4 linked regions of the Homo sapiens genome follow. The protein of the gene in region 2 interacts with the protein of the main gene of each other region in a pairwise test. Each region holds a gene or a part of one and is shown on either strand. Other genes may lie near its edges.

The links.
Region 1: the proteins of SH3BP4 (region 2) and CEP78 interact in a two-hybrid assay, tested with the Homo sapiens proteins (one study listed by BioGRID and IntAct).
Region 3: the proteins of SH3BP4 (region 2) and TTC1 interact in a two-hybrid assay, tested with the Homo sapiens proteins (one study listed by BioGRID and IntAct).
Region 4: the proteins of SH3BP4 (region 2) and PLEKHA1 interact in a two-hybrid assay, tested with the Homo sapiens proteins (one study listed by BioGRID and IntAct).

Annotation. Positions count from the first base shown.
Region 1 is NC_000009.12:78,239,047-78,246,074, forward strand, and holds part of CEP78 (centrosomal protein of 78 kDa), read left to right. Parts: intron 1-976; coding exon 977-1,149; intron 1,150-1,245; coding exon 1,246-1,318; intron 1,319-2,649; coding exon 2,650-2,753; intron 2,754-4,415; coding exon 4,416-4,590; intron 4,591-7,028. UniProt on the Homo sapiens protein: Centriole wall protein that localizes to mature centrioles and regulates centriole and cilia biogenesis. Involved in centrosome duplication: required for efficient PLK4 centrosomal localization and PLK4-induced overduplication of centrioles.
Region 2 is NC_000002.12:235,039,002-235,046,029, reverse strand, and holds part of SH3BP4 (SH3 domain-binding protein 4), read right to left. Parts: intron 5,143-7,028; coding exon 2,783-5,142; intron 1-2,782. UniProt on the Homo sapiens protein: May function in transferrin receptor internalization at the plasma membrane through a cargo-specific control of clathrin-mediated endocytosis.
Region 3 is NC_000005.10:160,033,136-160,040,163, reverse strand, and holds part of TTC1 (tetratricopeptide repeat protein 1), read right to left. Parts: intron 5,025-7,028; coding exon 4,964-5,024; intron 3,474-4,963; coding exon 3,361-3,473; intron 1-3,360.
Region 4 is NC_000010.11:122,377,684-122,384,711, reverse strand, and holds part of PLEKHA1 (pleckstrin homology domain-containing family A member 1), read right to left. Parts: intron 1-7,028. UniProt on the Homo sapiens protein: Binds specifically to phosphatidylinositol 3,4-diphosphate (PtdIns3,4P2), but not to other phosphoinositides. May recruit other proteins to the plasma membrane.

The sequences.
Region 1 (7,028 bases), on a different chromosome or scaffold from region 2:
GGGACCTCAGAGTCAAGGCTAGCCTACTAGATCTTGCCTAATATTTTGCACTGAATGTAAGAAAAATGTATTACAGACCATTCTCGTCAGATATTCTTCACTGAACCTTCTTTATCTCTTGCATCTAGTGGGTCTAGGTTGTAGATTTTAACCTCCTACATATTGCTTGTCCATCCTTAATTACATTTTGCCTGGACTATTGCAGACGCTCCTAGCTAGTTTTGCTGCCGTTGAGCTTGGTTTTTCTCAGTTCATCTGCCTACTTTGGTTCAAGTGATCTTTCAAAAAGGAAAAGACATGCTTAAAGTGGCATGCCCACGCAGGACCAGTGTGTATTGGTTGCTTGTGTTCTGCACAGAGGCACTGAAATCTCAGCTGTGTTCTGTTAAGCCTCCTGGGGTTAGTTGGTCTTGAGGAAGGGGAGCTTTTTCTCATTTCCTTTATCTCTTTGATACTCCAACAGTGAGGCACATTTTTCTAACCTGCTAGGGGTATCCTTAATGTGTCAGTGGTAGCCCTGATCCTCATCACCTGTGAGGTAAAAGTGAACTCTCCTAGGCTTGCTTCTCCCTGCCTCTTTGTAAATTTCTGACTCTTCCGGCTACGGCTCTGGGCTTTAGTCGGATCCACCTGCAGTTTTCCAGTGCCCGGCAGGTGTCAGGCTTAGATGCCTTTGCTCTCGCTGCTCCCTCTGGTTAATGCATCACCCACTCTCACCCCATGTTGTCATTCTCATCTTTCTAGATTCAGCTTCAGGATTATCTTGAAGCCATCCTTTCAGTGCAACTTCTTTGCTTCCATAAGAACCTCTATGTACATAGTTTGGTATATCCCATGTGGCTTGAGTTTACATGTGTCTGTGCTTAAGAGGACTTTAAAGGACATGGCTCATTTCTATGTCTTAGCACAGAGCAGATGTTTTTGAATGATACATTGTATGATTGAAGTCACTAACTTTCTTTTATCTTTGTTTTAGGTTCTGACATGAATAAATTTTGCAGAAGTCGTGTTCCTGCGATAAGATACAAAGATGTGACCTTCCAGTTGTGTAAAGCTCTTAAAGGCTGTTTAAGTATATCAAGTGTGCTAAAGAACCTGGAGCTAAATGGACTAATTCTGAGAGAGAGGGATTTAACTATTCTAGCAAAGGTAAGCTTTGTCTCATTTGGCTTGTAGACATTTGATAGTTGCTTTTAGAGGAAAAAAAACCTCAATAACATTTTTAACTTTTCCCCCTCATTAAAGGGATTGAATAAATCGGCTTCTTTGGTGCACCTGTCTCTTGCAAATTGTCCAATTGGAGATGGAGGTTTAGAAAGTGAGTTTAAATCTCATTTAACTCTTGTCCTATCAGGCTGGTTTCATGTTTCCCTACATGCCATGTTAATTCCTGTCTGTACCTTTTTTCTTACTACTGCCTCATATGCTTGTTCAAACCTTGGTCCAGTCTCAAGTCTACCATGAAAGCTTGGCATGCTGAATGTAATCTGAACTAACTTTACTTAAGTTTGTGTTAAACCACAGACCACACAAATATATACCATCTGGTATTCTCTGTTTTTTGTGTTTGTTCATCTTTTAGAGTTTTTCTTCAAGAAATATTTATGGGAAGGAAATAGCAAAATGTAAAGAGGCCGGGCGTGGTGGCTCACGCCTGTGATCCCAGCAATTTGGGAGGCCGACGTGGGCGGATCATGAGGTCAGGAGATTGAGACTGTCCTGGCTAACATGGTGAAACCCCATCTCTACTAAAAAAATACAAAAAAACTCACCAGGCATGGTGGCGGGTGCCTATAGTCCCAGCCACTCAGGAGGCTGAGGCAGGAGAATGGTGTGAACCTGGGAGGCAGAGGTTGCAGTGAGCCAAGATCACACCACTGCACTCTAGCCTGGGCGATAGAGCAAGACTCCGTCTCAAAAAAAAAAAAATCATCATTACTTTAAATAATTAAAACATATATACAATCAATTTTAATGCACTGTGGTATGTTCCAAAATAGGAAATATAAGCAAAGTGCTGTATAGGAGCATATAAAAGGCTGACAGACTTGGGGGGAAAGGGTTGGGATCATGGAAATAGTCACAGAAGGTGACTGTTCGTTGGGATCCTGAAGTCTTGTGTTCGTTGTGTGAAATAGTGGTCTGGAGGGGTAAGGAAACCTGCATTTCAATTTGAGGGAGCAGAGAGTTAAAAGGCCTCTGTCTTCTATTGTTCTAGTACATTAGGTGCTCTAGTATAACACCTAATAAAATTCTGGGTTTATAGTTGACACTGAATTGTTGGTTAATAACAGATTGAGGTCTGCTCTTGGAAATGAAAATAGGAAGAGTTTTATTTTTTTTATGTTTTTCTTTCAGATGTCTCAAAAAGTATATAGAACTTTACTGTGGTCTGGAGTAAGGTTGCAATATTCAGTCTATTCAATTTTGGCATCTAAATAGAATTGAACTATTGCAATAAACTGGAGTAACTCTTTGTTACTGACTTATTTTAGAATGTACCAATCAGTTGCTTAGGTAGATTGTAAATAGTGATTTTAAGAATACAACTATAAAATAGAAAAGATATAAGAAGAGCAAATAAATCAAGACTGACTAGGTTGTATATGCTCTTCATCTTATTGTATGTGGTTTTTTTTTCCATTTTAGTTATTTGTCAAGGTATAAAGAGCTCTATCACTCTTAAGACAGTCAACTTCACAGGATGTAATCTGACATGGCAGGGAGCAGATCACATGGCCAAGATCTTAAAGGTAACTTTATGTTCCAACTTTCATGAAAATGTGTTATATGATTGCCACACGTTAATATTTTGATACAAGACAGCAGTTATTTTTGTCTTTTGATACATATGGGCATTGCAGTTTTAGTTTTGTTTAAAGAATGTGACCAATTTTCAGCCTGGGGTTCTACCATTTATTAAAGGTAGTATGCTTAATCTTAGAAATAGAAGACCTAAAATATAATAATTAGATTTTTCTGTAAATACAGTTTGTAAAACAGTAATTTTAAAGGTGCCTTAACAACTTTATAGTGGTTATTACTACTGTATTTAGGATAAAATTACATAATAATGTGACATGAAGCCTTTTTAGTAATTTGATGGTGTAGATCGGGGTAGTCAAACTATGGCCTGTGGACCAAATCTAGCCTATCACCTATTTTTGTAAATAAAGTTTTGAAACATAGTCATGCCCATTTGTTTACATATTAACTATTGCTACACCCTACACTAGGAGAGTTGAGTAGTTGCAAAAGAAACTATATGACCCACAAAGCTGAAAATGTTTATTTTGGGGCCTTTACAGCGTAAGCCCACTCTCCGTGGGATAGATAATGGTTACTCATGTGGATTCTGAAGCCAGATGGCCTAGGCTAAAACCCGAGCTCTCTCCCATTTAATAACTTGTGACCATGGGCAAATTAGTTAACCGCTCTGTTCCTCAGTTTTCTTATCCATAAAATGTGTATAATAAGAAAACCTACTGTGTCTGTCATTGTTAGGATTTAATGAACTAATGTGTATAAAATAGTGCCTGGCTATCTAAGTGTTTGCTGTTATTTCCTCTTATTGCTTTTATACAGTTATTATGAATAGCAAATGACACTGACAGTTTTCATTTGACGGAGTCATAGGAGCTTTGAATCTTTTGTTTCAGAATGTAATGAGATTTTTTTTTCTCTTAAAATCAGTGTTTCCTGTTACCGAAATTTACTTTATGGATAAAGAGAAGTGATTATGTCTGTAAGATAATACCTGTGGTTAAAACTCAAACCACCAATTTCCGAAGGCATATCAACCTTGCTTTGTATATTCTAGGCCTCTAAATTTGGTGTGCATACCCTAAGAAATATGTGAGATCCCTTGGGTTAGGAGAAGAAAATATTAACCTCTATATTTTTGTATCATTTAAAAAATACCTATTGTTTCTGTTTGATTTGTAATATACATAAAATATGTATATAGAAATTCCTGTATATAGTTTATTAATAAATAACTTACATGTTAAATGTTTACTTGTGGGATGTCCAGTCAAGTGTTTAGAGACCACTGGAGGACAGAATGATATGATTTAGAGGCTCAGCAATGATAGAATTTAGAACCAGTACCTTCACTTGGCATATAAAGAAAATAAAATTCTTAGAAGTTAACTAAGTTGTCAGTTTACATAAAGCAATCAGTAACAGGTCATTAGTGGTTAGGGTCACATAGCTAGTCAGTGACAGACTAGTATCTGGGTCACTGGACTCCTTACTCAAAATCTACTATTTAATCAGTCTGTCAGATTAACCCACCTGGCATATGTACCTGGTGTGTGTGTAAAGCTCTGATGTAATCAGCTGTACTTAGTTCCTTTTAGTGTTCCTATCTCTTTATCCAAGTGTATTAATTTCATCTTATTAAATCTTTGAAGTATCAGACCATGAGAAGGCATGAAGAAACCTGGGCTGAGAGTCTTCGCTATAGGAGACCTGATCTTGACTGTATGGCTGGCTTAAGACGTATCACACTGAATTGCAACACACTTATTGGTGACCTAGGTGCATGTGCTTTTGCAGACTCTCTCAGTGAGGATTTATGGCTGAGAGGTAAGTTAAATGAACTTGTAAGGTGGAAAATATTGAATTTTTTGATATTAAATATGCTTAACTCTTGGCACAGTAATGTTGTCCGAAGGTTTTTTAAAAAGCCTCTTTTTTCTAATAGGTTTTATTTTGTTTTTAAGCCTTTATAAAAGTTATATATATTCTTTATAGAAAATACCAAGTAACAAAAAAAAAAAAAGTACATATAATCTCAATGCCTAGAGATAAACTGTTCATTTTGGTGTATACACTTTCAGTATTGTTTTTTCCTGCAGATACATTTGTGTGCTTAGAGTTACAAGAACAGAACTATAGTGCACTTACCATTTTGTAACCCTGCTTTTTTTATTTAATGATGTATCATGTAGTACTCTATTATATTGAGGCATAATAGTTTAATTCCCTACTATTTGATATTTAGGCAGTTTGTGCTTTTCCCCTGTTATAAACAACTCTGTAGTAAACTCCTTATGTATACATCTCTGTGTCCATTGAAGTTACTTTTTTTTTTTTTTTTTTTTTTTGAGACAGGGTCTTTCTCTGTTGCCCAGGCTGGAGTGCAATGGTGTAATCATACCGCGCTGTAGCCTTAAACTCCTGGCTCAAGTATCCTCCCACTATACCCTCCGAGTAGCTGGCACTACAGGTGCACACCACCATGCCAGGCTAATTTTTGTGGAGACAGGGTCTTGCTGTGTTGCCCAGGCTAGTTTCAAACTCCTGGGCCCAAACAGTTCTCTTGCCTTGGCCTCCCAAAGTGCTGGGATTCCAGGCATGAGCCACTGTGCCCAGCCTGAAGTTACTCCTGTAGGATAAATTACTAAAGTTGAGTAACTCAGTATAATGTATTTCTTAAAGACTTTTGATGCATGTCACCAAATTGCCTTTCAGAAATGCTGTGCCATATTATAGTCTCATAAATGCTGGATTGTGTCTATTTTAAAACCTTAAACTTTACAAAAATGAGAACTCCCCTGCTTTTTCTTTTTTGATGCAAATGGGATTGGTCTCTGAATTTTACAGCTTTTTTCACTCAGTCTAGCATATCTTAAATCAGTAAGTTTACATTTACCATGTCATTTTTAGTGACTCTTCAGGGTTCCATTATGTTAATATGCAATAGTACACTTGGCTTATCCGTTCCTATTAGATATATAAGCTATTTCCAGTTTTTCATTGTTATAAACAGTACTTTGATACGTGTTGTTGCCCGTGTCTCTTATAATTTCCTTCTGGTAAATTCTTAGAAGGAGAGTTGCTGTGTTAACAGAGTCTGCACATTTTAAAGGTTTTTTTAAAATGTGACCTTCGCCAATCTGATAGAAGCATAATCACATTTAATTGTTTTAGTTTATATTCATTTGATTTACTAGTGAGATTTACTGGCTATTTTTATTAATTTGGCTAGGTGGATAATTACATCCTATGCTCATTCTTCTGCAGCAAGAGTTTGTAAAGGTTTTACCATATTCTATCAGATCCATATATCTGACTTATTTCTGTGTGTCTTGTGGTGTCTTAGTCAGTTAGGGCTTCATAGAATATTCTATATTATATATAGTATATATTATATAACTCCATTATAGAAGCATATAACAGAATTATATTCTGGGTGGCTTAAAGAGAAGACATTCATTTCTCACAGTTCTGGAGTCCGAGAAGCCCAAGATCCAGATGCCAGTAGATAGGTGTCAGGTGAGGGCATTCTCCCTAGCTTATGGAAGGCTTTTATATCCTTAAATGGTGGCGAGAGAGAACTCTAGTCTCTTTTTTTTCTTGTAAGGACACTAATCCCATGATGGCTCCACTCTCAAGACCTCAACTAAACCTAATTACCTCTCAAAGGCCCCAATTCCTAATACTACTACCCTGTTGTGGATTAGGGTTTCAATATACATTTTTGGGGAATACAGACATGTAGTCCATAAAATGAGATTCTGAAAGACTTCAGTTATTTTAATGTAATGGTATACACGTGCTTTTGCTCTGATGTAATCTTTTTTTATGCCTGTACTTTTGTGATAATCCTTTTGAGTTGAAATGAGTAGATTGTTCAGCCTCAGTATTACTAGTATTCATGAGCATTTGTTTAGTTCTTTGACCTTTTACTTGAGAGAGAGTTCTTGACCATTATTTTTTCATGATAGGTTTTTAGTATATAATCTCTATAATCTCTATTCACACATTCTTTGGATTCATTATTTCTATCTCCTTAGAGTTCTTTCTTTGTCATTTTTATTCTAAAACTAACAGTTTACATTTTTGTATTTTCTTTTCACTTTTTTAATGTAATTTTTTGAGAGTCACTTGGAATTTGAATTTGAATTTGATGATGAATCTAGTGCAATTTCTGAGCTCCACCCAGTTTTTGCCTGTGATGTTTACACTGCCACTAGCATCCTTGTTAATTATGAACAAATATTCATTCTGTGATGTTTTAT
Region 2 (7,028 bases):
TCTTACACGACTTTGTGGGGCAGGGGCAAAGGCTGACCCCGTTCTAAAGGCAGTGGAGAGAGGAACAACCCAGGTCTCATTTGACTCCTTTTTCCTTCCCATCTCCCTGCACACTGACTGTCTCAAACTCTCACATTTTCCCCATCATTTAAACACTGTTTCCAACCCAAGGCATCAGAACAAGGACACCGAAAGCTATGCTAAAAATGAGAGGCAGGGGGTGGCCTGGCTGTGACTCTCTGGGAGGGGCAGGTAAAGCGGTGGCAGAGGCCGCAGAAATCGTGGCAGCCCTGTGATGACAAGCGGAATAGAACAGCCAGTTTTCAGGGTCTCCTAATAAACGACCTGGGAGAAATCCGTCTGTGGTTTCTATAAGTTTGGCCAAGATGATGACTGACACAGGTGTGGGGGGCGGGTGGGGACACTGCAAAACCAGTTTCACTTTATCACCACAAAATCTAACCTTGCCTCAGGGAGCCGACCTGGCCAAGGGCAAGTTTCACTTCCTCCTTTCTGGGTAGCGGAAGGACTCGGGCACAGAGGACACACCCCTCCCTGGAGCGGACAGGGAGGCCCACCAAAAAATCCCCTCCCAGAGATGCTCACCAATCGAATTGAGAGAGTTTGATCATTTATGTCTTTTGGAAAAAGATAAAAAAGCAGGAAAATGAGTGTAAAAGCCACCTACTCGGCGGTTATTTTCCACAGCTGGTGTGGTACTCCTGGTTGTGTCATTTTTCCACCTCTGGTGCAACGTCGAGGTGAGTGTCCTGGGCTCAGCAATGCTGTCAGGTTCCACGACAGCATGCACAGCCACGGCTGTGGTCTCGGGGCCGCCCGCACAGAGGCTCTCACGGGATGGAGGCGCTTTGTCTGCCACTGTGCTGGGTGCACCCGTGAGGAGACCAGGCCACGGCCCGGCACCAGGTTCTGGAGAGCCAGGAGGTGTGCTCTGAATCACACATGGGTGATGGCTGATGGGAGGGACGCAGGCCATCCCCTCCCTGCAGGTGACCCCACATGGGGGCCCGGAGGCTTCCCTGCTGCGTTTGTTCGCTTCCTCCCCACCCAAGTGCAGTGATTTCCTGGTTGCCAAGGTGGCCCCCCTGACGGCCGCTTCCAGTTCCATCTCCCTCCCCTGGGCAATCTCGTGGCTCCATGCTTCTGGCACTGCACACGACTGCAGGCCACCCAGAGAGGGTCTCACCCGACTCCTGCCCCACTCCTGCCGGGCTGCGTCCCTTCTGTCTCCTGGCTCAACATGGGCAGCCGAGCCGGGTATGTGCCACATGTGACCCTTGCCTGCACACCTGTGTCTACAGGACACTCTGGGCTCTCCCAGACAAACAGGGCTCAATCCAGGGGAGCCGGGGAGGTGGCAGAAAGGCCGGGCACCAAGAAGCACGCCTCTCAGAAGCTAGGATGCAAGAAAGCCTGCGGGCTCAGAGGAACGAGGAAGAGCGGCACACGCCAAGGTCACAGGGTTTTCCCACAGGAATGAACACCAGCAATGCGCCCCTCTCCGGAGGATAGGGGTGGACTCCGTTCTATCACAGGGAGAAGTCCACAGGGACTCTCCACCACAAACACCCCTGGGGATGCCAGGACACGGATATGGCTAAGCCTAGCCAAGGTAACCGCCAGGACCCAGCTCTGCTGACGGTGGGGCTGCCTGCGGGGAGCAGTGCTAAGAAAGCGTTGAGCAAATGCTCCCCGGTTGGCTCGTGGGCCAGGGCGTAACCCACAGTCTGATGCTTACTTCCCCCTTTTATTTCTTTGGATTCCAGTTCACGGTTGTGCTGGCAAAACAAATGCTGTCCTCGCCCCAACTCAAACCAACACAGAGGGGGAAGTGGAAACAATACAGAGATGTTAGAAGCTTCAAGGAAGCAAAGGCAAGAAAAACTCACATTACAATGAACACAGGCTTTGGGGCAGCGGTTCGTGGGACTCTGGAGTCAGAGACCCTGTTGGGAATCTAACGAACCACATCTGCTCCCAAGAGATCTAAACTGAATGGCGAGAGCACAGGCCGCCTTCTGCCCCCACCCGCATCTGGTCCATTCTGGGACCCTCTTGGAGCTCACAGATTCGGTGGGAAAAGTAACTGGAATGCTCTTCTTTGCAGGGTCCTTGGGTTGTCTGGGGCCCCCCAGGATCCCCCGTAAACCCCATCTCCACTTCAAGCACACTTCAAGCCCCACACGTATATCCCAGGCAGCGGGACATCAGCCACAGACACTGTCCTGGTGACTTACAACACCACGGCCCACGCCCACGCATATTGGGAAGGCGAAAGGCTGTGCTGAGCCGCACCTATCTCAGGCAGCGGGACATCAGCCACAGACACTGTCCTGGTGACTTACAACACCACGGCCCACGCCCACGCATATTGGGAAGGCGAAAGGCTGTGCTGAGCCGCACCTATCTCAGGCAGCGGGACATCAGCCACAGACACTGTCCTGGTGACTTACAACACCACGGCCCACGCCCACGCATATTGGGAAGGCGAAAGGCTGTGCTGAGCCGCACCTATCTCAGGCAGCGGGACATCAGCCACAGACACTGTCCTGGTGACTTACAACACCACGGCCCACGCCCACGCATATTGGGAAGGCGAAAGGCTGTGCTGAGCCGCACCTATCTCAGGCAGCGGGACATCAGCCACAGACACTGTCCTGGTGACTTACGACACCACGGCCCACGCCCATGTGCACTGGGAAGGCGGAAAGGCTTTGCTGAGCAGCACCCCTGAACGCCCAGGCACCTGCTGAGCACTCACCATCACAAGCTCCTTCTGGAAGGACTTCCGTTCTTTGTTCTCAGTGTTGTTACAGTCCTCCTTCAGCTTTTCTAGGACGGACGCCACCCGCTCGGGCTCACTATCCAGCTCTGCCCGGCAGAAAAAGGTGAGCGGCAGGTTCACGTAGCCCAGGGCGTCAGCGAAGGAGCGCCAGCTGCTGATGTTCTCCATGAGCAGGGTCCTCACGGAGGCATAGATGTACGTGAGGAATTTGCAGGGCCGCAGGATCTGCTCCAGCAGCACCGAGGTGCTCAGCTCGGGGCCCGAGCACAGGCTGGGCCGGGCCCTGCCGACCACCAGCACGTTCTTGGTGTGCACGAGGCCCACCCTGCCCTGGTAGTAGCCGATGTACCACTCCTTGGTCCACAGCTGGCCCCGGAGCCTGACCCGCTCCTCGCTGAGCAGGGCGATCCCGTCGCCCTTCTTGTACTCCAGCAGGTAGTGGTTCTTGTTCTGCCGCACCACAGTCTTGAGCAACTTACCAAACTTGAGGCTGGACACCGGGCGGTCCTGGAAAGTCGGGTACTTTGTAGTGGTGGCAAACGGGGACAGGATGATTTTCCCGACTTCGTTCTTCTTGAGAAACCTCCTTTGCCCGGAAGGCTTGATGGCACTTTTAGGGGGTGGCTGAGGAGTCTGGACACAAAACTGGGTGAGGATGGCCTCCTGGTCGTCCTTCACCTGAACCCGCAGCGTGAAGTCAGAGAGCTCGTTGGGGTTCTGGGAGGTGATGGGGAAGATCAGGCGGCTCACCTTGCCCAGCTTCAGCTGGAATCCTCGCACCACTTTGGCCTGCTCGCTGGCTTTGACCTCGTAATTCGTCATATTGGAAAACATACAGACCTTGAGATCCTGGGGCCTGGACAAAACGAACTGGTGCTTCCCCCACAGCTGCAGGGCCACCGGGGCAGGGTTGGGTGCCTGGCGTGTGACCTCGCTGACCAGGAGCGTCTTTGGGGCACAGTCATGCCCAAAAATGGTCACTACCGTCTTGAAGGATGGGTGGATGTGTTTAGGGCCGTAGAGACCCACTGTGACTTTTTTATTGATGAAGTCCCACACGGTGGAAGGGTAGAGGATGCTTGGGCCATGGGCCACGACAGCCACGTACATACAGGGCTCCAGGTTGTGCAGCTGTGCCTGGACCGTGTCCCCACAGCTGCAGTTGAGCGGGACGGAGACATATGGCCCTTCCTTCGAGTCGCTCCTCAGGCACTGGAGGCCCACTGTGCTTTTGCTAAAAAGGTCATTTTTTATCTCGGCTGACACTTTCATCTCCAAGATGATAGAGGTTTTCACCTCCAGGTTGCTCAGCTTGACCTCCAGCACAGGGCTGATGCTGCAGGACCTGTCACTGTTGAGCTCCAGCGGGGGGTCCAGCAGGGCTTTCATGGAGATCTGCTGGGTCTCCCCAGGGGCGACGTGGCCCTCGGGCACGTGGATGCTGATGCTGGTGTCAGGAAGCTGGACAGCACCCCCGGAGCTATCCAGCTTGCACACGATGTTTGTCTCCACGGCTTGGGTCTGGCCCCAACCAGGGCTTTGGCCAAGCAAGTCCAGGTCGTGGCAAGACCGGGCCAGCTTCCTGTGGTTTAGCCAGGCAGTTCGAAAATCCTCCCGGCTCTGAAATTGCTCGGGGGCAGGTGATTTCAAGCCGGTGAAGAAACTCGACGATGTGGGAGCATCGGACTTGGCTTGGAGGACGGAGAGTTCCGAGAGACTGTAGGAGCGCTTGCTTCTGAAGAAGGGGTTGTCCCGCCTGACCGGCGGCTCTGCGTGGAGTCCGTTTGTGACTGGAAGCTCATCGAAGATGTTGCCAGTGCTATTCGTGGTGGCTGAGCTGGATTCGGTGAAGGAGGATGTACCTGCGTCAAAAAGGAGCAAATCCACAGTACTTTTGGGATTCAGCTCATCCAGGCTGGGCATGACGGGCACGTTCCCATTCAGAAATGGATTGGTCTGGACCCCATTCCAGAAAGGGTTATTACTGTACATTCTGCCTGGTACTTTTTTGTCATCTGTCCATCCCCCGAGCAGCTCCAGCTCCTTGGCTACCTCGTCTGGGCTGTCTGGAAGATTATCAATCATACCGCTGTCACTCAGTGTTGAGTTCCGGTAGTTCAAGGGCTGCACATAGGAGGAGGGGATGTAGCCCATTTCGGTGGTGTTGTGTGCGTACCACCACTCACCGCCAGATGTGTCCAAGACGTAGAGATGGTCGCCCTTGGAGAACTTCAGTGTGGTGAAGTTGGTGGGGCAATAGTCCTTGATCGCAATCACTTCCTTTGCATTTCCGAAAGGTGTGGGGTTGTCTACGAGCAAGGCACTGGGAGAAGGCACTGTGCAAAACACAAAGAAAACAGATGGTGAGGGCAAGGCCGGCGGGGTGTCCGGAGAGCTTCCCAAAGGAGAGAGGACGGTGGTAAACAGACAGGTGCACAATAACCCAGGCAAGTCACCAACAGAAACAAACCAAAGTGAAATTCAGTAGGTAATTTACCTGGCCAACGAACTGGTTCCTGCTACTTGGTCACCTTCAAAATCGACAGCCTATGTCCGGCAGAAAGACCACAGAGGAGCCTCTCCATCACTCACAGAAAGGCAAATCAGTGCAATGGAATATTTAACATGCCCTACGCCCTAAACATCTCATTTTGGGCAACGTTAAAATTCTTCTTAAAAGAACTGCTACTAGATACAAAGAGAAACTGAATGTGATTAACTTAGAAAACACGGTGACACGGTGAGTTAGGTGACCACTGCATGTGATCAGGGACTGGAAATGAACAGATTCCAAAAACTCCCGCAATGACATGTATGAGCTGATTCCAAGCTCTGCCTCTGGATGGAAAGCTTCCCTCAACCTGCTTCTTAAATTTCCAAACTCAACCTGTTCCTCACCAAACTGTTTCCTCAGATAAAGTAAGAATTCTGAAGTCAGTTCCTTCCAACCTCTTTTATTCTTATTTTACTTATTTATTTATTTATTTATGAGACAGTGTCTCACTCCGCCACCCAGGCTGGCATGTATTGACATGATCTCAGCTCACTGCAACCTCAGCCGCTCAGATTCAAGTGATTCTCCTGCCTCAGCCTCCAAAGTAGCTGAGATTACAGGTGTGTGCCACCATGCCTGGCTAATTTTTGTATTTTTAGTAGAAATGGGGTTTCATCATGTTGACCAGGCTGGTCTCAAACTCCTGACCTCAAGTGATCCTCCCGCCTCAGCCTCCCAAAATGATGGGATTACTGGTGTGAGCCACTGCGCCTGGCCCAACCTCTTTTAAATTATCATTCAAAATCACAACATGAAAACAGACTGTCTACATACCTTGAAAATGAGAGATTATGCCTAGTCATAGCTCATACTATCATTGAACAAGTGTTGAAGCAGTCTGAAAAATTCCAACCCTTCAAAAAGTGAATCAAGTTAATTCATGGCTCCTGCCATTGAACTCTGTATGTTACCAATGTAGACGGCAAATGAAACAGCAAAAATAAGTCAGCCAAACAAGTGGTGTGTTTTGAAAAATAATGGATATGATTAAATGAGAAGATATATTCAGAAGATGAAGAACACTCTTTCTGAAGAAAATAAGCACATATACTTCTCCCCAGGACTCCCCTCCCCCACCTCCCAAACTGCCTCACTTACGGAGTCTGCTGACATTCTGGCTTCCCGTAATAAACAATTGAAAGAAAGAAAGGAAACGTTTCTTTCTTTCTTTCTTTCTTTTTTTTTTTTAAGTTGCCAAAGCAAATGACCAAAGAAAGGAATCCGTTTTTAGTTAAACTAAACCTACATCTTTTCTAATGTGATGAAGTCCACAGTCATCGTATTCTATCAAATTGCCCCCCCGACCCCAGAAAATCACCTGCCAGTTTCCTTTTCCTTTGAAAGGAAATAATCACACTTCCTTGGGAAAGTGTTAGGAAATCAGGTAGACAGTTTCTATTCATTTACATTAACTGGGTTACAGAGATGCGCTTAGCTGGGAGCATCCCTGGGCCTTGAAGCCCCACCTACCTCCTCCTGTGAAATTACAGCAGGCCCGTCTATCTGGGTGTCTCAGAGAACCCGGCTCTGGGATCACTAAACCCAGACTCGAGTGGAGCCCTTAGAAACTGTGTGATCTCCAGAGCCTAAGACTCCACTCATGGTGGACAAAAAGTGTATTTCCTCAATGAGCTTTGGAGAGGACAAAATGCAAAGACGTAGATAAGG
Region 3 (7,028 bases), on a different chromosome or scaffold from region 2:
CCATTGTGTTCCAACTGCCTATAGTAATTCAGTGCAGAAACATGCTGTACAGGTTTGTAGCCCAGGAGCAATAGGTTATACCATATAGCTTAGGTGTGTAGTAGGCCATACCATCCAGATTTGTGTAAGTATACTCTATGATGTTTGCACAATGATGAAATCACCTAATAACACATTTCTCAGAATGTATACCCGTTGTTAAGTGACTCATGACTGTACTTTAAAATGGCCAACTTTATGTTATCTGTATTTTACCACAATAAACAAAACAAAAAAGGTTTCAGGGTCATCTGGGACCTTTTTTTATTTCTCTTTCAATGTTCAGCATACCAATTCAAATATCAAAAACTCTAAGAAGTCCTGTAAGTAATCTGTATAACTTTATATAAGTCAATATTTTTTCAACTTATCACATTTCTATAAGTCAAAGACACACAATTTCACAGTTTCTGAAATAGAAATAAATCTTTACAATTTATGTGTACAACTGTTGTGATGGTATTCTTTGTGTGCCTAGAAGTGATTATTAAGCTGTAGTGCATCTTATCCACTGTCTCCTCAAATCAAGGAATTATGGAATTTTATTGCAGAAACTTTTGTTTGAGGCTCATAGTCTACTAATACCTCAGAGGACCCAGGTGTTGTCTGCTGCTTACAATGGTAGTCCCCAAAGTGGAGTGTGTGGGAAAAAAAAAAAAATCACAACTTTACCATTCTTTCATAATTTTTATATATAGGTAGCTATCTATCTATATAAAACAGTATACATAATATATAGTGACAAAACAAATGTACACAGCATATAAGGACAAACAAATCTAACTATACATATAAAACAATGTATATAATATATAAGGACAGTAGTTAAAAAAAAAAAAAAAAAGAGAACCTACTCTTTTAGGGCTCTGCTCTTGTATAGCTAGCGAGACCTAGAGCTGAAACTCTGCCCTAGCTCCAGGTTACCTTTTCTCTCTCCAGATATGAAATGTGAAGCGTGGCCAGGGGCACTGAGTCAGGGATGCTGAGCTTGCAAACCTGCCTTTCAGAAATTCTTCATCTTTACCTCTTAAAGCAGTTAAACCATCATTTCCTTGAAAAACTTAGAATATAATATGCTCCTTAAATTGTGTCAGGGTACTAATCCTAGAAGTTATCAAGTCTCTCATTTTAGAGTCTTCATAAAGTATTAAAAATGCAACTTAAGGCCGGGGACGGCGGCTCACGCCTGTAATCCCAGCACTTTGGGAAGCTGAGGTGGGCGGATCACGAGGTCAGGAGTTTGAGACCAGCTTGACCAACATGGTGAAACTCTGTCTCTACTAAAAATACAAAAATTAGCCTGGCGTGGTGGCGCGCACTTGTAATCCCAGCTACTCAGGAGGCTGAGGCAGGAGAATCGCTTGAACACGGGAGGCGGAGGTTGCAGTGAGCCGAGATCACACCACTGCACTCCAGCCTAGGTGACAGAGTGAGACTCCGTCTCAAAAAAAAAAAAAAAAAAAAAGAAACGCAACTTAAAAGAACAGAAAACTTCACCAACAAAACTATTCTTTGAACAGGCAACAATCATAGAGCAACGCTCTTTTGAGTTCTCCTCAGATGTGACAGACAAAATACTAACAAGACCATACATTTTCCTAACTCAAGAACCAGACTATTTATGTGAGCCCAAACCTAGAAATATCAATAACTTGGGCAACTGTAGAAACAAAGAATCCCAAATCCCAGGAGCCAACTGGGTATGGTGCATTTCCTCTGATACTGAAGGCACATCCTTGATCCTATTTCACAATGACAATGTCCAGTCTAAAAATGTGGCAAAAGGGAGAAGCAAATCTAAAAGATCAGAATTTTCCAGGTAAGTGTAAAAACTGTTAGATGTTAATTCTGATTGCTGGTGGGACACATTAATGAATATTGTTTTAAATAAAGTTAAACCAATTGTTTTGTTTTCTCTAATACAAAATGTTGGTTTGTATACTATAAAATTATTTCTTCTCTCATGCCACATGAAATACTCCAAAAATACTCTGCTTTGAAGATTGAATCTTACACAAGTTCTGGTAAAAAAAAAAAACCGTAACCTTTCTGCATGTCCAAGCATTCAAGCACCCACCCCCGCAACCCTGCCCTGGGGCCTTTAAAAAAAACAACAACAACAAAAAAAACCTTGTCACCTAAAGTGACTGTGGTAGAGGCATTTGAGAATTTCAGACAGTATCAAAGAGATATCTGATCTAAACAAACAAATGAAAACACTGCCACTTCCAATCTTGAGCCAGCATCATGGTTGCTTAAAGGTATGTTAAATAACCTATCCTTTGTACTTTGGATGTAAGTAGCCATAGTTTAAAAAGTGGTATGGTTTAAAAAAAAAAAAAACCACTCTCATTTCAATCCAAGGATTATGAAGACTAAATCGGAAAATCAGACAAATCAGAAACAAATCTAACTTTTTTTTTGAGACAGAGTTTTGCTCTTGTCGCCCAGGCCAGAGTGCAGTGCACTGCAACCTCTGCCTCCAGGCTTCAGCGACTCTCCTGCCTCAGCTTCTTGAGTAGATGGGATTACAGGTGCCCACCACCATGCCTGGCTAATTTTTGTATTTTTAGTAGAGATGGGGTTTGACCATGTTGGCCAGGCTGGTCTCGAACTCCTGATCTCAGGTGATGTGCCCGCCTCGGCCACCCATAGTGCTGGGTTTACGGGTGTGAGCCACTGCATCTGGCCCAAATCTAACTTTTAATAAGGTCATGGTATAAAACAAATATATTTGTACTCTCACCTATTCCATACTCACCTTGTTATACTAGGTTCTCAGTCCTTTGGAAATACAAAATGTTTTCAAAGTTCCTTGACACCTATTTTGCATTTAAGGGTACCTTTTATCCCAGCTGTTGGAGATTTCTCCAAGTGTCCATACTTTGAACAGAAAAGTCAGAATCCTGGGAATAACCATCTTTAAAGATGCTTTAAAGCCCAGAGTTTTTACCAGTGTTTCCCTGTGCCTTTGCATGTTTATCTAGAATTCCAGAGGCCTAAAATAAGGATCTAGAGCTATTCTAGGACATGCACTGCTTGGCTCATTGCTTCATTAACCTGACCTAGTTTAGCAAAAAATTTGCCAGCCCTCCTTCCATGAAAGTATTCACTCAGCTACTTTAATGGGGAATGTTAACAGTAATCTGACTCAAGTTTTTCAAAAGATTTTCTATTCTCCCTGTGGCCTTTACATCAGGGAAATATATGGGCAGGAAAAGGGAGGCAGCAACCTCTATGCTAGTTTCTGGAGAGAAACTATGGTATGAAAAGACTGCAAGTCCATGTGCTTTTTAAAAAGAAAAGGTCACAGATACATACCTGTTTCATCCTTGCTGCAGCTCTATTTGAAAATAGAATCGACCTCTCCTTTTGGAAGCAGGATGGGCACATTTCGAGGGCTCGACTATAAGAACTTTCAGCTTCTATATAATCTGAGGATAAGAGAAAGGATGAATGGTCATTTTGATTTTATTCCTGATACTACTATATTCCACAGGATCTCAGAAGCACTGTTTTCCATTCATAGGATGAAGGTTTTGAGTTAAAAGATGGTAACAGTCTATTAAGTCTGGCGCAGTAAAAATCATTTCTTCTTTTCTTCTCTCTTTAAAGGAACAGTGCTTGCTTGTGCCAATCTCACAGGCTGTGCTTGGTGAACTGACAGCTGAACATGCTGTCAGTGACAAGCCCTCAATACTCAGGAGTCCTGGCATTCCCTCAATGTTCAGTTTTCATTTGGCTGGGCAATTCAGAAAGGAGTTTTCAAAGGAGGTTACAGAACTGGACAGAGGAAAGAGACTAAACTCTGGGATCCATGGCCTGAGATAAAGAAAAAAATTATACATATTTGTTTTCATTAAATCTGTTGTGCTTTCATACAGTCAACCTGGCTAAAACAGCATCCGTGAAATGTTTGAAGAGAGACATTTGATAGAGCTAAAAGGAACAATGTAAAAATCAATATTTAAATCAAGACCTTAAAAGAGAAAATGGTGAAAAAGAGAATTATGGTCAGGATACTAATAGAAAATTGCCTATGTACTCCTTTCTCAGGTTTGAAATATTTAATATTAACATACAAAAAATATGCTTCCAAAATTAGAAGTGTTTATTCTATTAGAAAACAGTATTAATGATTACTAAACCAAGATATAGGAAAAAAAAAAAAACCCTAAAATCTGAAATCAGGTAATAGGGTAACTTTTGGAAAACAATAAGAAAAAAATTAAAAACCTGAAAATAACTAGCGGAAAATGTTAACACTCCTAGATTTCTGAAGCATATACACTTTAAGATGTGACAGAAGACTTTTGCTCTAAGATCAAATAGTTACCCCAAATTATCAGAATGAACCCCACCAACTTATTTCTAAGCAAATGTAGAAAATGCAGAAGGACATGAAGAATCTCCCTACTTAAGGCATCCAAAGAAAATGGCACATGAAAGAGCAACCTTTCTGAAGCAGTTTGGAGAATTTAAAAAAAGAAAGAAAGAAAGAAAGAGCAACCAAAGGACAGGCAGCCCTAGGCCATACCAGAGCAGTCAGGCTGCTTTCACAGCCCCACAGCAAGTGAGGAGCGGCGACTCTGCTTTCACAGCAATGCAGCACATAACCTTTAATATTCCAGGTTAGTGTTTTCCAAAGCAAGAGCTCAAGAGTTTTACCCCTGATTCTAGACTAACAGATAGTGGATTACAGAAAGACTATGCATGTGCCAAGAGACAAATGGTAACTGGTCACCATCAGATGAATAATTTGGCCTGGTTAAAAACTCAAAATGCCAAGGTACTGGGAAGCAACACTGTATTGTGAAGTCTGGTTTTGGGGTTTCTTCAGATGTTCTTTGGGGTTTCTTCACAGACTCTACAACAGGATGAGGAGTCAAGATGACCAGATTATCAGTGCTGAAAGTCGTCTTACCTCCTTTCTTAAACTGTTCATTTCCCTCCTCCTTTAGTCTAGTGCTCTCTTCTCTTCTTTTCTGAAAGACATCAGAGAATTACATAATTTCTCACAATATTATTATAAGTGAACAAAAAGGTGAGCTTTCCTTATGCACAAGTCTATTTAATAGGCAACAGTCTGACTTTTGAGAACTGCATCAGTTTCACCAAAACCTTGTACAGTGATAGAGGAAAAAAAACACATGACCATCAGGCTAATTATCAATTGCATTCTTGATGTTTAAAACAAAAAATGTAGGTCTTCTTGGCATGTCCTTTGCTTTCTATGTTTCTATCTTTTGCAATGGAATGATAATTACAGTATCACTTAATTTCTACTTACTCAGAAATGAAACTAAATAACATACCCACTGGTGTGCATACCAGTGTAAATTCAAATTGTAGCTTCTAGTACTTACTAGTTATGTGGCCTCGGACAAGTTTCAGAATCTTTCTGAGCCTTAGTTTCTTCATTTCAAAAATGAAGCTTTAATAGTATTATGGACTACTGTTTAATGGATTAATGTCATAATATACATAAAGCTGCCCATACAGTGACTAGCAAATAAGGGCTCAATAAATAAGCTATTATTTTCTGTGAAATAAGTACTTTAATCCTTATAAGAACCCTTCATGGTTTGTGTCATGAAGGAGACACAGTATGCTAGGAGAGCACATTTGTGGGTACAAGCCAAGTCTGTAGGGTTAGGGCAGTATACTGTTAGCAGGTTAACATAGGAAAATGTGAAGAAACCTAAATAAATAAGTCTGTCTTTTCTTAGCTTATTCAAACAACTCAGAAACTCACATAGATGGCCAAAAACTCATCAAACACAAAGGCTGAGAGAATGTTATCCTGCAAAGCAAAGTAGACGCATGCTGAGTGTGTGCACTTTTTTGTGGAACATCTTAACAATATAACTGGCACAAGCCAAACCAGAAGAGTCTGTATGCCTGCCACCTTTTGACAGTGCTTTAAAACAAAAACAACAAAAAAACCCCAAAAACAGAAAATCTACCAAAGTCCCTTAAAAAAAAAAAAAAAAAAAAAGAGATAGGGTCTCACTATGTTGTCCAGGCTAGAGTGCAGTGTCTATTCACAGATGTGATCAACACACACTATAACCTTGAACTCTTGGACTCAAGTGATCCTTCTGCCTCAGCCTCCTGAGTAGATGGGACTATAGGTGCACACCACTGTGCTGGGCTCTTTCCTCCTTCTTGAAGCTTCTGATTAAGTAATTTCAAAGGGAGGAAATACAGTTAGCATTCTGATTAAGTAATTTCAAAGGGAGGAAATACAGTTAGCAGGGTATTTCATGCACAAGAGAAGCCTGGAACCTAAACAATTGGTCCTTTTAACATGAGGAACTGATATGATCTGTGTTCCTACCCAAATATCCCCACGGGTCAAGGGACGGACCCTGGATCATGGGGACGGTTCCCCCATGTTGTTCTCATGATAGTGAGTTCACTTTCATGAGAACTGATGGTTTTCAAGTGCCACACTTTAAAACCATCAGCTTTCTCTTCACTTTCCGCCATGATTGTTAAGTTTCCTGAGGCCTCTATAGCCATGTGGAACTGTGAGTCAATTCAACCTCTTTTGTTTATAAATCACCCACTCTCAGGCAATTCTTAATAGCAGTGTGAAAATGGATTAATACAGGAACCAAAATAAAAACATTCTTTCTCTGGAAAAGATTTGTCAATATGCTATTGATGAGACCGGGTATTTCCCAAATGTCTTATTATTACACTATGGATTAAACAGAGCACTTGATGAATCTCAGTGAGGAAACTAAAAGGTAAGTATAGAGTGAATCTAATTTTTATGGTACATACTATGTGCCAGACACACAGCAGGTACAAATAACAATTCATTTTAAGATATAACGTATCTGAGGGAAGGGCTATTCTAAAGGAATTCAGAAAAAAATAAAATATAAGAATATGGCCATATTTACCTAGTACTACCCATAAGAAAGATGCTTAGATTGTAATGATCTCTACTGTATTGATTAGGGTTACTGGATGCAAGC
Region 4 (7,028 bases), on a different chromosome or scaffold from region 2:
CAAAGTGCTGGGATTACAGGTGTGAGCCACCACACCTGGAGCAGTAACAATTTTAAAAACTCATTTATAAATGACTACAAGTCATTTTTTTTTTTTTTTTTTTGAGACAGAGTCTCGCTCTGTCACCCAGGCTGGAGTGCAGTGGCACGATCTCGGCGCACTGCAGGCTCTGCCCCCTGGGGTTCACACCATTCTCCTGCCTCAGCCTCCCGAGCAGCTGGGACTACAGGCGCCCACCACCTCACCCGGCTAATTTTTTGTATTTTTAGTAGAGACGGGGTTTCACCGTGTTAGCCAGGATGGTCTCAATCTCCTGACCACGTGATCCGCCCATCTCGGCCTCCCAAAGTGCTGGGATTACAGGCGTGAGCCACCGCGCCCAGCCAAATAAAGTTTTTTAAAAGCTTTCCATGGCAAAAACCTGATAAGCAAAGTCAAAGCCAGTAGAAAATATTTGCAACTTATATCATAAACAAAGGGCTAATCTCCCTAGCATTTAAAGAGCTTGCAAAAAATGTTAAGGGAAATATATCAAACGTTCAATAGAAAAATGAGTAAAAGACATGAACATTGTACCAAGAGAGATATAAAAATGGCCTTTAAATATATGATGAGATATTCAGTATCACTCATAACAGGACAAATACAAAAAAACCATACCGAGATGTAGCCATTGCCAATGACATCCCAAGAACAGAACAACACGAGAGACTACCACAGGGATTCAAATATCAAAATCTATACAGTAAGAAATGGCTCAGGAAAGATAACTGGTTTCTTTAAAATTAAATTCAAAAGCAGGAGAAGAAAAGGAACTAGAGGAGAAACCTATGAATTAAAAAAGACTTTAGATATCTGGACCAATCACGACATGTGGATTTTATTTAAATCCTGTTTCTTTAAAAATAAAAACAAAAACAAACAAAAAAACACTGACATACTTAAAATCGGAAATTTGAATATTGTCTGATGATATTAAGAAAACAGACACATTATTTTTGGTGTGATAACGGCATTGTGATTGTTACCAAAAAAAGGAGGAGTCCTTTTCATTTAGAGATATTTACTGATATAAAATAAATGTTATTTATCTGGGGCCAGGCATGATGGCTCACAATTGTAATCCCAGCACTTTGGGAGGCTGAGGCAGGAGGATTGTGTGAGCTCAGCAATTCAAGCCTACAAAATGACAAGACATTATCTCTGCCAAAAAAAAAAAAAAAAATTAGCCAGGCATGGTGGTGTGTGCCTGTAGTCCCAGCTACTTGGGAAGCTGAGGTGGGATAATCGCTTCAGCCCAGGAGATTGAGTCTGCAGTAAGCTATGATTGTGCCACTGTACTCCAGCCTGGGCAATAGAGCAAGACCCATTCTAAAAAAAAAAAAGAAAAAAAAAAAACAGAAAGAAAGAAAAGAAAAAAGCAAGAAAGAAAAGAAAAAAATGTTATCTGGGATTTGTTTCAAAATAATTTTTAGAGAAGGGAATAAACGGAGGCACTGGTGGCAGGGTTGGTAGTTGCTGGGGCTAAATGATGGTGTTCATGGGATTGGTTACACTATTCTATTTTTGTGGATGTTCACAAATCTCCATAATAGAAAAGTTTTTTAAATCTATACTATACAGATATACCATTTCTCATCTATTAGACTGGCAAAAATTCAAAAGTTTGACAACACACTATACTGATGAGGCTGTAAGAAAACAGAAACTCTTACATTGCTGGCAAGAAGGCAAAATGGTAAAACCCTACTGGGTGAATCTGGTACTATTTAACAAAATCATATATGCTTTTATCCTATGATCCAGCATTCCTACTTGGTACTGTAATGTGAAACATTTTAGGTATAACAAGACTTCCAGACCATTATAATGTACATTATTGGATAATGTAAATATGTTGATATGATTATATTTAAAATAAAAGAAAACATTTATTTGTTATTAGGAACCAAGACTTTCACAGTGAGAGAAAAGAGGTACAAACAAAAAACAAAAGAACAAACTGTGTACAATACATCTGAATTAGAAATAATATGAACTACATCATTTCTGAAGATATGACAGTAATAGAAAATCACCACTTTGTAATCCCAATGTCTCACTGATTTACACAAGCATCTTCAATGAACACTAAAACCACTAGATGAAATGCTGTTAGGAAACAGAATATTCATAGTCTCAAAATATCACCCCACAGTTTTGTTACTAATTGCAAACAGGAAATGTATCTTTACATTGGAGAGATCTTATAGCCCCCACCTTTACCAAGTAACTTGGTATCTATTGAATCTAGAAGCTAGGTACTAATGGATACCACTTCTCTCTAAACAAACCAAGTATAGTATGATTCCACTGACATGAAATATGCAGAATGGGCAAATCTATAAAGCTAGAAGGTAGATTACTAGTTGCCTAGGTACAGGGGAAATGAGTTGTTGTCTAAGGATAGGAGGGTACAGGGTTTCTTTGGGGATGATACTAATATTCTAAAATTGATTGTGGTGTTGTCCACGTAACTGTGAATGCACTAAATCATACATTTTAAATAAGTGATTTATATAGTGTGAATTATCTCAATAAAGCTTTTTCTAAAAAAAGAAACGATTACAATTGTCTTTCATTCTAGAGTACATAAGAAACCCTAAGGAATATTTCATCTCCCAGACCTCTATTGTTGGAGTATCCCAGAGGGTGGTCTGTGGATCTCTTTCCTATATATACTCAGTGTCTTGGTGAGGTTACTCATTCTCACAGGCCTAAATATTGATGACTTCCAGACTGTTATCTCCAGCCTTGAACACTGTTGACCTCCAGACCCATGTATACAACTGCCTATTCTACGGTTCCACTTATCTAACAAGCTATCTCAAACTTAACAAACTGAGCTCCAGATATTCCCCTCAGAATCCTGATCCAGCCTTCCCTAGCTCAGTAAAGGGCCACTCCCTTCTTCCAGTTGTTCAGGAAAAGTATCTTGAAGTCATACTTAAGTTTTTCTCACCCTGTGGTAGTCCGTTCTTGCATTGCTATAAAGAACTACCTGAGGCTGGGTAATTTACAAAGAAAAGAGGTTTAATTAGCTCACAGTTCCACAGTCTGTACAGGAGGCATGACTGGGGACGCCTCAAGAAACTTACAATCATGGTGGAAGGCAAAGAGGGAGGAGTTACCTCTTACATCGCAGGAGCAGGAGGAAGAAAGAGAGAAGAGAGAGGTACACACTTTTAAACAACCAGATCTCAGGAGAACTCACTCACTATCATGAGAACAGAAAGTAGGGATGTCTGTCCCATGAACCAACCGCCTCCCAACAGGCGCCTCCTCCAACACTGGGGATTACAATTCGACATGAGATTTGGGTGGGGACACAAATCCAAACCATATCCTACCCCATGTCCAATCCATCAGCAAATCCTGTTATCTCCATCTTCAAATTATAACCAGAATCCTACTTCTCACCACTTGCTACCTCTCTGGTCCAAGTGACCATGACCTCCCACCTGGATTATTGCCAAGGGCCTCTCCTGGATCTGGCCCTTACCCCACTTCAATCTATTCTCAACATGGCAGTCAAAGTGATCCCATTAAAACATTTATTCAAGTGTTCACTCAATAAACACGTACACATATTACTACTCACAAAGCACTTTTCTAAATACCTAAATATTAGTTTATTTAATCCTTATAACAATTTTACAGATGAGAAAACTAATAAGGCACTTGCTCAAGGTCACATGCTTGGGAGTGGCAGTGCCAGGAGTCAAACTGGAGGAGTCTGGCTCTAGAGTCACACTCCTCAATACTATGTAATACCTCACTCTGCTCAAAACTCTTCAGTGCAATAGATGTCAACCTTGGCCACTTATCAGAATTACCTGGGAATTTTAAAAATTCCTGATGCCTACGTTAAAACACCACCTCCCCCACCACCGCCGACCAATTAAATCAGAAATTCTGGGATGGGATCCAGGCATCAGTACTTTTTTAAAGCTTCCCCAATCATTCTAATGTTCGGCCAAGGTTGACAACCTGTTTCAATGGGATCCCATCTCACTCAAAGTAAAAACCTAAAAACCAAAGCCCTCATAAAGACCACTAAGCCTCGTCTGCCCTGTTACCCCATCCCAATACCCACCTTACTCATTCATTTGGCCGCTGGACTCACCAGACAAGATTCCCACTCGGGGACTTGTAACTCAAAGTCACGTTCTCAGTGAACACTGCCTTTTAGATCTTATCTAAAATTGCAAATCCTCCAAACCGTTTTGCTACTTCCACCTTGGTTCCCCATGTTATTCTTCTCCTTAGCATTTATTGATTATCTAATGAATGATACAGTTTACTTATTTACCTGATTCTTGTCTGTTTCCCCACACTGTAATGTAGGCTCCATGACAGCAGGGATTTGTTATTTACTGTTGTTTCTCCAATGCCTAACACAGTGGCTGTCACATGCAAGACCCTCAGTAACTATTTGTTGAACGACGGATGAAGTAACCCATAATTACTGCATCAAAGATTAACGTTAAGTTTCCAGATAGAAAGTTGTTTCTTCCTCATCAGACAAGAATCATTTACCAGATTTAACTGATTTATTTAAATAATGGAAGGAAAAAGTTTCAAATACTGTATTTCCACTTAAATTTATATTTTTAGTGAAACTTACATGAGGCAAAACCAGACACAATTATATTATTAACATGCCTCCCAACCCAAATTTCTCCTTCAGCTTTACTCATACTCTAAGGTATAGTTAGATCTTACAAATCAGTCATAAATTAACATAATTACAGTTAACACCTCATCAGTCAGGAACCAGGAAGCCAAAAAATAAGGCAAAACACAGAAACAGCCTGAGTGATATAAGAAAAAGCAAAGAAAAATTAAATTCTGTACAGTGAGACCTCAACAGGCCCACAAGACTTCACTATTATTTGTTAAAACATGTCGAGTGGGACTAGTCCTGTTGCCCCACAATCACTGACAAACACAAAGCTGAGGATATATAGACATAGAGGATCAAATATCTGTAGAGTCAGGCATGGCTCTGGCACCCTAATCAGCACCATCCTTCCACTCTGCAAGAGCAGTTGACAGAAGAGAGGGAAAGAACTGTAAGTCTTCAGGGAGAACGCAGGGAAAAGAAGGAGGTCTTCACCAAAACAGTGGCAGGGGCCTCTAACAGAAATCACTCATGAAGATCAGAGGAGCCTAGAACAGACTTGCATCCCATTCTCCAGTTCCACATCTGCTTATGCAGCAGACTGAGTGACTGACCCCATGTGTCTACTTGAAAAGGGGGACAAAGAGAATTGATGAGAAATGGCAGGGCACAGAAAGAAGGCAGACTTAAGTAGTCTGTATGCCACTATTCGACATCACAAGGAAGTGAGTTTCCAGTGGGTTGAATAGAAACCACAGCGTACCTGGATTGAAGTTGTTTTGCCATTATCAAAATATCTCGCTGCAGAGAGAAAAGATCTCCACCCCGACTCACACACATTCACGTAACCAGTGGGTAAACTGACAGGATGGGAGCAAGCAGATGGGTGTGTAGGTTGGAAAAGGTTTAGCTACAGAAAATTTCATACCCAGAAACTGTGCAGCAGGAGTCTCCCTGCAAGATCTCACCAAAAATGCCAGTTTGGTTGCCTATTAGTAGACTGCAATGGCCTGCCACTGTTAATCAAGAGAGGACTCTAATAGCACCAGATAACAAACACTTGTCTTTTTCTACTTCTCTTCTTGACACATTTGTATCCAAATAGATCCCTTAAGAGGGAAAGGAAAGAAGTATCCCAGGAGCTTACCACAAGCCGTCCATACCCCAAGTGCTTCAGTAAGTAAGTGGCCTGACCACAGGGTAAGGAAGGGAAAAAAAACCTTTAAATTGAATATATATGAGATTGAATGTTCAAACTGGAATAGACTGCAATTTTTTGTTTTTGTTTTTCTGTTTTTTTTTTTTTTTTGGAGACAGGGTCTCACTCTCCTGTCACCCAGGCTGGAGTGCCACAGCACAGTCTCTGTTCACTGGAACCTCTGCCTCCCAGGCTCAAGGGATCCTCCTACAACAGCCTCCCAACTAGCTGGGACTACAGGCACATGCCACCACGCCCGGCTGATTTTTCTATTTTCTGTAGAGACAAGGTTTCGTCATGTTGCCCAGGCTGGTCTCAAACTCCTGGGCTCAAGCTATCCTCCCACCTCGGCTTTCTGAAGTGCTGGGATTACAGGCATGAGCCACTGAGCCCAGCCTAGAGCTTTTTGATAACTGTAAATGACAGAAAAGCTATCATTTACCCATGATGTTATGGGGGGTGGGGGACAGGGGGGTGGGAAAGAGCCTACAAAATACAGTTAAAGGCAGTGAATAGTGAAAATTAAAACTCATTAAAACTCTTGTGTTTGTTCTCAGTAAGCTTGGACTGCTGAATAACCTGATGACATATGCAATAGCATTCTCATCCTTAATAATGGGAGGGAACACCTGACATGGAAATTCTCAGGAGGGATTTACTGTACCGGGTAAGATGCTACATTAGAAGCCCTCTGACATCACTTCCAATTCTAGTGCCTGTGATCGTCTTTTCCTTCAAGAGGTTAAATTCAATCCAGAATCTAGAGTTCAATGGTTAAACCATAAAAGGCTAGGCTGCCTAAAGGGCTAAAAACCACAACTTTCTGGAGAATAAAGCTATCAGACTGACAAGCCTGGTAAGAGTTCCATGTAGGAAACAATATTTTGCTCTAAAACTTATTTAACTTAAAAAAATCTTAAATGACTAATTTTCTTTTATATCCAACAGAAATTCCAGTTCAAAGAAAGCTTATAAAATCCCAAAAACCCTATCTTCCTGAATATTATCAATTCAACTAATTAAAAGGCTTACTAAAATAAATAGCAAACATATGTTTGCTTAAGCATCTTCTAGGAATCACAAACTCACATATCCCTTATTAGACAGTACCCACAAGAAAAAAAGTTACTTAGGGTCAAATGGTTTAATATTGCTCAGTAAGTGTAA